Homo sapiens: one gene and its partners. The protein of the gene in region 3 interacts with the protein of the main gene of each other region in a pairwise test. Each region holds a gene or a part of one and is shown on either strand. Other genes may lie near its edges. The genes, in order: ERCC3, HOPX and ZSCAN1.

Evidence for each region.
Region 1: the proteins of ZSCAN1 (region 3) and ERCC3 interact in a two-hybrid assay, tested with the Homo sapiens proteins (one large-scale study listed by BioGRID and IntAct).
Region 2: the proteins of ZSCAN1 (region 3) and HOPX interact in a two-hybrid assay, tested with the Homo sapiens proteins (one large-scale study listed by BioGRID and IntAct).

The regions. Positions count from the first base shown.
Region 1 is NC_000002.12:127,280,586-127,284,235, forward strand, and holds part of ERCC3 (general transcription and DNA repair factor IIH helicase/translocase subunit XPB), read right to left. Parts: intron 47-3,650; coding exon 1-46. UniProt on the Homo sapiens protein: ATP-dependent 3'-5' DNA helicase/translocase. Binds dsDNA rather than ssDNA, unzipping it in a translocase rather than classical helicase activity. Component of the general transcription and DNA repair factor IIH (TFIIH) core complex.
Region 2 is NC_000004.12:56,650,239-56,653,888, forward strand, and holds part of HOPX (homeodomain-only protein), read right to left. Parts: intron 575-3,650; coding exon of another isoform or gene 445-574; intron 1-444. UniProt on the Homo sapiens protein: Atypical homeodomain protein which does not bind DNA and is required to modulate cardiac growth and development. Acts via its interaction with SRF, thereby modulating the expression of SRF-dependent cardiac-specific genes and cardiac development.
Region 3 is NC_000019.10:58,032,428-58,036,177, forward strand, and holds the start of ZSCAN1 (zinc finger and SCAN domain-containing protein 1), read left to right. Parts: upstream 1-1,597; 5' UTR 1,598-1,734; intron 1,735-2,315; exon of another isoform or gene 2,316-3,542; 5' UTR 3,543-3,584; exon of another isoform or gene 3,585-3,750. UniProt on the Homo sapiens protein: May be involved in transcriptional regulation.

The DNA of each region.
Region 1 (3,650 bases), on a different chromosome or scaffold from region 3:
TTACAGTGGGCCTGCACGATGGTGAGCACCCTTCGGAACATCTTGGCTGAGGAAACAATGGGAGCATTCACACTGTCACTTTTCTTTCTTATTTTTTATTTATTTATTTTAAAATATTTTTTGTAGAGATGGGGTCTCATTATATTGCCCAGGCTGGTCTTGAACTCCTGGCCTCAAGCAATCCCCCTGCCTTCGCCTCCCAAAGTGCTGGGATTACAGACGTGACCCACTGCACCCAGCCTACACTGTCACTTTTTCAAATGCTCATAGCTGTGCAACTTAACACTGGCTTATGACACCACCTGAACTAACCCTTGGGTTTCAGGACCACAGAAGCTGGCTCTAGACAAGAATGACTAGGCAAATGCTTCACCATCACTTTTAGACCTGTCCAAAAGAAAATGAAAAGGAGAACAAGAGGGTGAAATGAGCTTAAGGAATCTCCAAGTTAATGAATCCCAGCATTCCCCTCACAACAGTTATCAGTAGAAGTACAGATGGCAATTTGAAATACAACCTGCAATACTTACTATTAATACCATTAAGCTCTAAATTACGCAAAGAATTTTCCCCTAACACTTGTACCCAGGTTACTGAAAAGAAAGTTGACAATCTAGGGAGAGGAAGAAATGAAAGAAGCCAGCTCTTCTCAGCTTCCCATCATTTTCCCAGAAACCGAGAAGAAAGCCAAGCCCACGGGAGTGATGAAACTCCAGGAACTGTTCGCCCAAGCCCTCCGGCCCGCCTTAGGAAACTCCCCTCTCCAAACTTTACCAATTCAATCACTTTGGTCAACCAGCAACCTCTTTTTCTTCCTTTCTTTTGAACATTATAATTCTCTCTGGTTTATCAAATAAAATAAACACATAAAGGGTATGAGTTATTCATTTTTAAAAAACCTAATTTATGGATTTCCACGGGCTCACCTTTTAAAAATTCTAATACTCTGAAGCAAGGTTAAAATGTTTGAGTCATGCTTATCTTACAATATAATTGAAAGTAGGGCTAATGATATTTCAGAAATAAATAGACACAAAAATCTAAGGAAAAAGAGGCCTGAATGCACCAAAACACAAAGACGTTCACAGTGAAATAACATAGGGTTGCCTAACTCTAAGTAAATGTTTAGTTTTTACATCTACATGGTTTGCACACAACACCACATGCAAACACACACACACAAACACACACACACACACACAACACAGAAAACAAAATCAGCTCAGGGTTATGTCTAAGGAAAGACTGTGCTGGCTCCAAAATACAGTAGCCAAGAACCTCAGACCAAGCTCCCCATGTTAGAGGGAAATGGTAGTCAAGGCAATGGCTACACCAACCCAGTGTGGGCCCCAGAGAGGCAACACTGGGGGACATACTGACCCAAGACAAGGATAAGGCAGGTAGGACTCTGCCTGGACACCCGTGACCCCATCACACCCCTCTATTACACTCTCCTACAGCCCTGACAGCTGTCACAGGTGAATAACTCACAGCATACTACTCAATATATTTTTACAGACATGCAGCTGTGGAACCACCTAGATCAGGATATAGAGAACCAGGCACCCAGAGGTCTCTCCCCTGACCCCTTCTGTCAATAACTAGCACTCTTCCTTGAGGGAAACACTCCTCTGACTTCTGAGAGGGGTCTGCCTCCTTTCTGAACTTTGCATGAATGAAATCATAGTATGCACTTTTGTGTGTGGCTTGTATCACTCAACATTATGTCATGGTTGTCATTTGGCATTTATTTGTGTGGTTACTTGGCTGTCCCTTCCACTTTGTCTCCAGTGCCAAGTACAGTGCCTAAACTTAGTAGGTTCTCAATAAATACCTGTAGAAATAATGAAACTGGCACAGTACCTAGCACACAGGAAGCACTTAATATACACAAGTACCATAATATGAATCATTAATAAAAAGGCATAACAGAGCTCCTTTTGAAAAATCTGTAAAACAGCACAGCAATCTTTATCCTTTGAGATAAATCTCAAAGATTGATCACTCCACCTAACCCAACACAGCAGACGTTAAGACAGTCAGGAGACTTACTGTGACTTCCTAGCATTCCCTTATTTAACATTTGCTCTCTGGGACAATGAGCATGGCCAGGCCACTGGGCTTATGGGGCCTGTACTCAAAAATCCCTTAGAGTTTGTTGGTTTCACTCCGCAACTCAACCAAAGACTAACTCATCCAGTGAACTAGACGAGAGACAGACAAACTCACAGACATATGTGAGTGTGAGATGCACCTTTTTGTACTTGTTCATCAGATAACCAATCCCAAATCTGTGCTGTTGTCCCCTGGAACCTGGGACCTGGGGCTTGGGTTAAAGAAAAACATGAACGTGTACCAAACATATAGTCAGACAGAATGCCTCAAGCCCTGAACACAGCTTCCAACCAAACTGCTACAGAACAATTCCAGACTCCTTTGTGGGTAGTGATTCTCTGTACCATCAATTTTCAATCCTAGCAGACCCAATACCCACCCTTCCACCTTTTTTCTTTTGAGTTTTTAAATTCTCACAGTAAAACTGACTTGGGGCGGGGGGTGGGGGGGGCACTTCTATGCATTTTAACATATTTACATTTTTGTAACCAGCACCACAATCAGGGTACAGATAAAGACAGCATCCCCCAAAATTCCCCTGTGCTCTCCTTTAGAGTCATCCATCTCTGACCCCCCACTTCTGGCAACCACTGATCTGCTGGCCAGCACTATACTGTCGTTGTATAAATGAAATCACATACTATGGAAGCTTTTGAGGCTGACTTCTTTCACTCAGCACCATGCTTTTGAGATTCATCCAGGTTGCAACATGCAGCAAGTTTGTTCTTTTTCACTACTGAGTAGTGTTCCAGTGTATGGATGTACCACAGCTTGTTTATCCAGACACCCACTGATGAGCACCTGGGTTTTGGATATTATGAACAGAGCTGCCATAAACATTCGTGTACAGGATTTTGTGTAAACCTCTTTTCATGTATCCAGGATACACAGGAATGGGACTGATGGGTCATGTGGTAATTTCATAATAAATGGACAAACTGTTTTCCACAGTGACCATACACTTTGCAATCCATCCCTCCAGGAATGTGTGACAGTTCAGTTGCTGTGACCTCATCAGCACCCGCACATCAGTATTTTTTATTTTGGCCCTTCTAACTGGCATATGGGAGCATCCTGTGGTGGGTTTAAATCTGCAGTTCCCTGATGACTAATGAGGTTGAACCCTTTTTCAAGTGCTTTTTTGACATATGTATATCCTTTTTTGGTGAAATGTCTATCAATTTCTTTGGCCTATTTCTTAACCTTTTTGCCATGGCCTGAATGCCTAACAGGAAACTCAAATTCACACATCTAAAGCCCAACTCCTGATAGTCACCTTCCAGACCAGCTCCTTTGAGAGTGTTCCCCATCTCAATTAATGCCCACTGTATCCTCCCTTTGTTCAAGCCAAAAACCTTAGTGTCATTCTTGATTTCTCTCTGATTCCACACCTGACCTGTCAATTAAAGCTTCACAACATATCCAGAGTCGGATCACGCCTTCATCCTTACTGGGATTCCACAAACTCACCTCACCGCTTCTGTCTTGCTTCCTTCAGTCTATTTCCAGCACAGCAGCCAGGGCAGTATTTTTAC
Region 2 (3,650 bases), on a different chromosome or scaffold from region 3:
GTATTTCTATAATTCACCTGTTCTAGGGGTAAGGGGACGAGGAACAGGAAGGAAGCAGAAAGAGCACAGCTGTGAGATGCCAGATCTGGGATGTGCTGATGGAGATGGGATGGTGAGAAACCTCTAGAGGGCTCCCCACATAGCATGGCTTGATGCCTATACAGATACTCAGAATGAACAGGATGGGCTCTAGGAAGCTGAAAGGGAATTCAGTATATAAGCCCAAGATCAGAAGAAAGTGTGAGAATCACAGGGGGAGAAGGAGCAAGGCCTAGAGGAGAGGCTGTTGAGCTTGAATGGGGGTAAGGCTCTGCAGGACTGCTTTGGGCTCCACATCAATGCTAAGCAGGCTGAATAGCATGGGAACACACCTACACCTCACCCACCTGTACAGCAGAGTTTACACACTGAAATCCTTTACACAGTTGTCAAGATCTTACATACCTTTACACTGGGGCGGCAGTAGAGAAAAGTAATCGAAAGCCAAGCACGGCAGACTATCATGGGGGTAGCCTTCTCTTTGGGGGCTACTTTCTGGGTGCCATATTTTGCTCCTGGAGATCAAATCACTACCCTTCATGAGAAGAGAGAACTCATGTAACTTTGGCAGCTTCAATCGAAATTCTACTGCTAAGGGTGGGCCCATTTTCTTCTGTAACCTGTGTGCGTGTGTTTAGTTAACTCTGGATTCTGGTATGAGAGCAGCAAGGTTCCAGTTTCATTAATGAGGTAGCTCTGTGGGGGGTTTCAAGGATGCAAGGTCTGATTAAATAGGATTTCCAGTTACTACAGCTGAAGAAATGGCAGCATTGTAAAGACTGACTAATTAAAATCTGGAGGAGGAAAATCTCACTTTCTATCAGATTTCATTTAAGAAAAAATGGTTGAGCTGGTCTCATTTAAAAGAGCCACCCACATCTTTACACTATGTAATGAAGCAGAATATTGATGGACTGTTACTGAAAATAACTTCAGCAGGGACCACATTTGTGGTTTTGTGAGTTGGTACCCAAATGCTTAACAAACTGAGCCCTAACATTGGGGGATGGGAGGAGGTCAAGAAAAGCTCAACTGTTTTTTGAAGATGCGTATTTTAAATCAAGTATATATATAATAATTTAGCAAAACCAGTTGCAATCCAACAGAAATCATTAAATACCTTGCTTGCTTTTTTCCCTTTAGAGCTGTATCTTATCAATCTCATGCACATCAGTGCTAATTTTCCACCTGGCTTTATCCTTCTCTTCTTTGTTTCAGTCATCCACTGGGAAAGACATTCATCCCTTGCTTGCTTATAAATGAATGCCCTCATTACCCTTGCCCATTGATGGAGATTTATTTACTCTGAATAAACAGATGATAATTAGACACTGTGATGGGTAGGGGCTGGGGCAAAGGAACATTGTTCCTGTCCTTTTCTCTAGTAACTAACATTTCATTCTTTTCAGGAAGAGACCTTTAGAGGTCTTTATTCCACCGATAAAACATCCAGTGACTAAAACCACTGGGTTCTGGGAACAAGCTCAGGACATCAAGAGGAGATAAAAATACTTGGAGACCTCCCTAAGAACCAATTCCAGTTACATTGTGCTTGAATTGAAGAGAAAGGGAGAGAGAGAAAGAGAGAGAGAGAGAGTGTGTGTGTGTGTGTGTGTGTGTGTGTGTGTGTGTGTGTGTTTGAAATAATAGAAAACACCAGATCATCCCAACCTCCCACGGGGCTGAGGAAGGAGATTTCCCAGCCTCTTCTAAAACTGACTTCAAAATAAAAGACATAGGGCTGGGATTCTGTAAGTTTTCATCTAATTTAAATCTAGGAGATATTTAGATTACTGTATTGAGAAAAACCCATTCTAACATCCCAGTAAATGCAACTTAGAAAGTTATTTCAATTACAGCACCCTTCACTTTACTTTGAGTTCTTATGGGTGCCACCTCCACCCCCACAGAGAATTTTGTCCTGAAGTGGGACAATTATAAAGAGGCCAGCAAATCTCCCAAGACAGAGAATGTTTCAACTTCTTAGTCCCGCTTGTCCCTGCCCCAAGTATCGGCCCTGTGAATCAGTTCTGGTAACTATCTTGCAAGAGCACTGGGCAGCTCAGGCTTCTTTTTGTGGTACTGAAGTATTACTTGTTCTAGGGAAGTTAAGAATATGATTCCATTTCTGGAGGTGGGTGGTGTTGGGGTGGGATGAGGACTCAGGCACATGAAACAAATGTTAGTTTGGCTTTAGTGACCCTTTCCCATGGAAAGGAGCAACACTAGTAAGAACAGAGATAGGGGAGGCTGGCTGCGATGGCTCATGCTTGTAATCCCAGCACTTTGGGAGGCCAAGGCAAGAGGATTGCTTGAGACCAAGAGTTCAAAACCAGCTCAGGCAACATAGTGAGACCCCCATCTCTACAAACAATTTAAAAATTAGCTTAAAAATTAGCCAGATGTGGTAGTATATGCCTATATCCCAGCTACTTGGGAGGCTGAGGTAGAAGGATTGCCTGAGGCTGGGAGGCCAAGGATGAGGTGAGCCATAGTCGTGCCACTGTACTCCAGCCTGAATGACAGAGTGAGACACTCTCTCCAAAAGAGAAAAAAAGAAAGAAAGAAAGAAAAAGAAACTGGGGAAGTGTCAATACCAGACATTACTTATATGTAGGCCCAGCAGGTCCTAGCCTCCATGGAGTTATTTAAAGGGTCCTCAAGACCTGCTATAAACAAAAATAATTTTAATGACGGAAAGTTCATCATTGGGCATATGTCTCCAGAAGACACTTTCTTTTTGTAATATTTTTATTTTTATTTACTTACTTATTTTGAGACAGGTTCTCCCTCTGTAACCCAGGCTAGGTGGTGCAGTGGCATGATCATAGCTCACTGCAGCCTTGAACTTCTGGGCTCAAGGGATTCTCTTGCCTTAGCCTTCAGAGTAGCTGGGACTACAGGCATGCACCAGCACACCTGTTTGATTTTTTTACTTTTTTATTTTTTATTTTTTGTAGAGATGGGCAGCGTCTTGCCATGTTGCCCAGGCTGGTCTGAAACTCCTAGCCTCAAGCAATCTTCCTGCCTCAGCCTCTCAAAGTGCTGGGATTACAGGTGTGAGCTACTGTGCCCAGCCAGACACTTTCTTTTTCATAGGAGATACTCTTTAAAAATATAAATGTTGTTTGAGAAGATGAAAGAAGAAATCATTCTCATTCACCAGTACCCATGGGGGTAGTGGGGTGAGAGGGGAAAGAATGGGAAATTGAAAGATGACACCCAATCCAGTAAGGGCAAGCAGACAGCCTGTGGTTCCTAGGAAGTCTCTTTCTCTGAGCTTGCTAAGTGCTGCCTGTCTCTAAGCTCTGGGGTTCCAGATGCTTCCCTGCAGGTCAAGGCAGGAAGACAGAGGGGCAAGCCAAGCTGTGGTAGCCATAGGGAGGAAGAAGGTGTTGGTCCTGTGGCAGGAAGAGGAAGCCAGGGGCCCTGCTAAGAGGCTGACTCACCCCACATCCACTCATTTTGGGGCTGGGTCTACCACTTGTTTATTTGAGAATGGCAGAAGGGGGGAAATGGGAGGACTGCCTGAGAGGTGCAGAAGAACCTGCTATGCAGAGGTCTGAATTGGCTGACCTCAGTCACAGAAAAAAAGCAGGTGCCCTTTTCTT
Region 3 (3,750 bases):
TGCCACTCCTGGGACTCTTAATCTCCAGGCCTCGTTTTATTTTATTCTAGGTATTTATATTTCCATGAAGCATCTGCTTTGTTTACTGGTGTTTGCCCCATGAACATGGGCTTCCAAGGGACTAAAGCCCTATCAGTCCCTCTCACTGATGTGCTCCCACCCCAGTGTCCAGAACAGTGCCTGGTACACATAGGCCCTCAATAAACAGCTGTCCAGCAGATGCTGGACCCCCTGGAGGTGGGTCCTCCTCTCTTTTCTTAGCTCACACTCTCCTGCTTCTTCTTCAGCAATGAGCAGCTTCAGCTATCCTGAGCTCAGTCCCAGAGCTGAGGACCCTCCTTGCATCATGATCTCACCCCCACCTGATTTCAGATACAAAACGAGTATCTGTGGAACCCTACTATTCTGGCACATGGTTACATTGTAGACATTAATATTAAAACTTATTTATATGAAATGTTCTTATGTAAGGTTTCGTTAAAGTATATGAAATATAGGACACATTGATACTAATTCCTTGTTTTTCTTTTTCTTTCTTTCTTTTTTTTTTTTTTTTTTTTTTTTTGAGACAGAGTCTCACTCTGTTGCCCAGGCAAGGCTGGAGTGCGTTGGCAGGTCTCGGCTCACTGCAACCTCGGCTTCCCCAGTTCCAGCGATTCTCCTACCTCAGCCTCCCGAGTAGCTGGGATTACAGGCACGCACCACCATGCCTGGCTAATTTTTGTATTTTTAGTAGAGACGGGGTTTCACCATGTTGGCCAGGCTGGTCTGAAACACCCGACCTCAGGTGATCCGCCTGCCTCGGCCTCCCGAGTTCTGGGATTACAGGCGTGAGCTATCGCGCCCGGCCTCCTTGTTTTTCTTGAGTTTACATATAACTGAGGTTTCTTTTTTCTTTCTTTTTTTTGGGGGTGGGGGGACGGAGTCTCGCTCTGTCACCCACGCTGGAAAACTGGAGTGCAATGGAGCAATCTCGGCTCACTGCAACCTCCGCCTCCCCGGTTCCAGTGATTCTCCTGTCTCAGCCTCCTGAGAAACTGGGATTACAGGCATGCGCCACCACGCCCAGGTAATTTTTGTATTTTTAGTAGAGACGGGGGTTTCACCATATTGGTCAGGCTGGTCTCGAACTCATGACCTCGTGATCCGCCTGCCTTGGCCTCCCAAAGTGCTGGGATTACAGGCGTGTCACCGCGCCCGGCCGACGTCCTGTATTTTTATTTGCTAAGAGTGGCGATCCTAGTCTGGGACATACTTGTACTAAACATATTTATATTAAAAACAATGTTTTAACATACTACTCTTGGACACTGTATAAAACGGTTGCGTGTCTGGAATGCCGTCGTTTTGCCCCGCGGCCCCATCGTACATGCGCATCCCCGCAGCCGCCACCGTCTCCACTTTCCGCAGCAGCGTCCCTGACGCTGCGCGACCCGTTGCCAAGGCGACTGGAACCGCGGCCCGAGGTAACTGGAGGGCACGGCGGGGGCGGGGCGCTCATCCCAGGCGGCTTCTGATTGGCCTCGGCCGCCTCGTGCGTCACAGCCCCGCCCCTGCCCGGGAGTCCCGCAGCGGTGACTTGTCACCGACGCCCGGCGTGATCCAGCGGACCAATGGCGGCCGCCCGCGGCGCGCAGGGTGCGGGGATGGGGTCCGCCCGCGGCGTTGGGCGCGCTCGCCAGCCCAGGGGTCGCCATGACCGAGTGGCCCAGGCCCGAGCGAAGCCCGCGCGCGGTGAGTCCGCCGCGGCCCATCCGTCCCTCCGCCCGCCAGAGCGTCCATCGGGACGCCCACCCGGGAGGGTCTCGGCGCCGCGTCGGCGGGAGCTGGCCCGGGATCGCGGTCCAGGGGCGCGCGTCGGGGGAGGCGGGCCCGGGCCCGGGAGGGGGCGGGCCGGGCCGGGGTTCCAGAGCCCATCGGGAGTCCTGAGGTCGCCGTAGGGGAGGGAAGGGGAAGGCTAGAGGCCACGCGGGGCGGGGACTGGGGGGGCTGGGGCCGCCCCTTCCGCAGGGACCCCGACCCCTGTTGGCATCCGCCTGTCCGTTTGAGGCCGAAGCCCCTCTACGTACCCCCATTGCCCGCCCAAACACCGCTCGGCCGCGTCCAAGTTCTCCCTTCCACACCTGATCAGCATCCCGGGACCTATCTCCCTCCTGAACAGCCGCCCCCGGACCCATCTCCCTCCCTACCCGGCCCCTTGGGCCCATCCCCCACTGGAACAGCAGCCCCCGACCCGTCTCTCTCCCTACAAGCTCCCCCTCCCCGCCCCAGGCCCATCTCCCTCCTGAACAGCCGCCCCCGACCCATCCCCCACCCAATCACCCCACCATCCTCCCCCCAACCAGCCGTCCACAGCCGTCGTCGCTGCCCCTCCCCTGTATTCCCAGTGCGCTGCCCTTGCACACTTCCCCAGCTCGTTTATTATGGAACTCCTCCGTGTGGCATCCTAAGCTCCCAACGCCCTCCCCACTGTAAGCCCCCTTCTCAAAGCCAGAACCATTCACTGACTGGCGCAGTGAACACGTCTTCTATGTCACTAAGCATCCGGCATCAGCGGCAAAGCCCTTCTGCCCATCCCCGCAATAGAATTTGGGGCTCGGGCTGCAGATCTCAGTGCCCATGCCAGGTGAACCTGGCCCTTCCACAGGCACTGAGCCCTCCAAGTGACACTCTCTCACACACACACATCCCCAACATTAATCAGAGACCCCTACCAAAGTAGACTTCTAGGACCCCAGGGCCACCACAGCATTGCCCATGGGGGGGCCCAGATCCTCCTCACCAGCCATGTAGACCTCAGTCCCCTTCACATCATCCCAGGCCCTCTTCATCTTCCAGAAACAGCCACCCATCAGTCCAGGACTCTCATCAGCTCAGGTACCCCCACATTGGCCTAGGTGTTCCACATCAGCCCCCATATAGACCCCAGACACACCCATGGACCTCTGGTGCCTTCTGCTAAGACCTCCTCTTTACCCTCATCCCTGATAAACTTAGCATCTCCTCCCACAGACCTCAGCCCAGGACCCTGGAGGATGCTGAGGGGCTACAGCCCCCCTCCCTAGAGTCTCCAGGGTGAGCTGCCATGAGCACCTGAGAGAGTATAAGGTCTGAGGCCCCAGGGCAAAGGGATTTCTTGAACCTGTGGAGCTTCAAAATAGGCCCTTTTTTCTTATTCAAAACTACATATATAAAAGTGTGAATACAACATAAGAGAGCATTTTTGCCTGTGGCCTTGGCAGGGAAGACCAAGCTGGTAGTTTCCCAATCAGGGTGCAGGTGGCCGGGTACGCTGACTCGAAGATGGCTGGCTGGGCACAGTCCCCGTGAGTTGCCTTTCTGCCACCCTGCACCTCTCCTTTCTCCTGGATTGTAAAACCAGATGCACGAGAACTGCAGAGTGTATGAAAAATGCAGCAGAGGATGAAGAGGGAAAAATCCCATGGAATCCCTCCTTTTCACTTGTCATAAGCATTTCCCATATGGTCAAAAATCCTTCCTAAAGATGTCTTGTTTTGTTTTGTTTTTCCATGTTGATGAAGGTCACATGGGAGCCCGACACCATTTGGAGGAGATTCAGAGAAGTATGAACAGCACAAAGCACTTGGCCGCCCCCCATGGGCGTCTTCCCAGGACTCCCTTTCTATGACACTCACGCATCATCCTGCATCCCACGTTCCCTGTGCCTCATGTCATCTGTACATCATGTGTCTACTCCCCGTGGTCATGTCATAGTGTTGTGTACTGGGC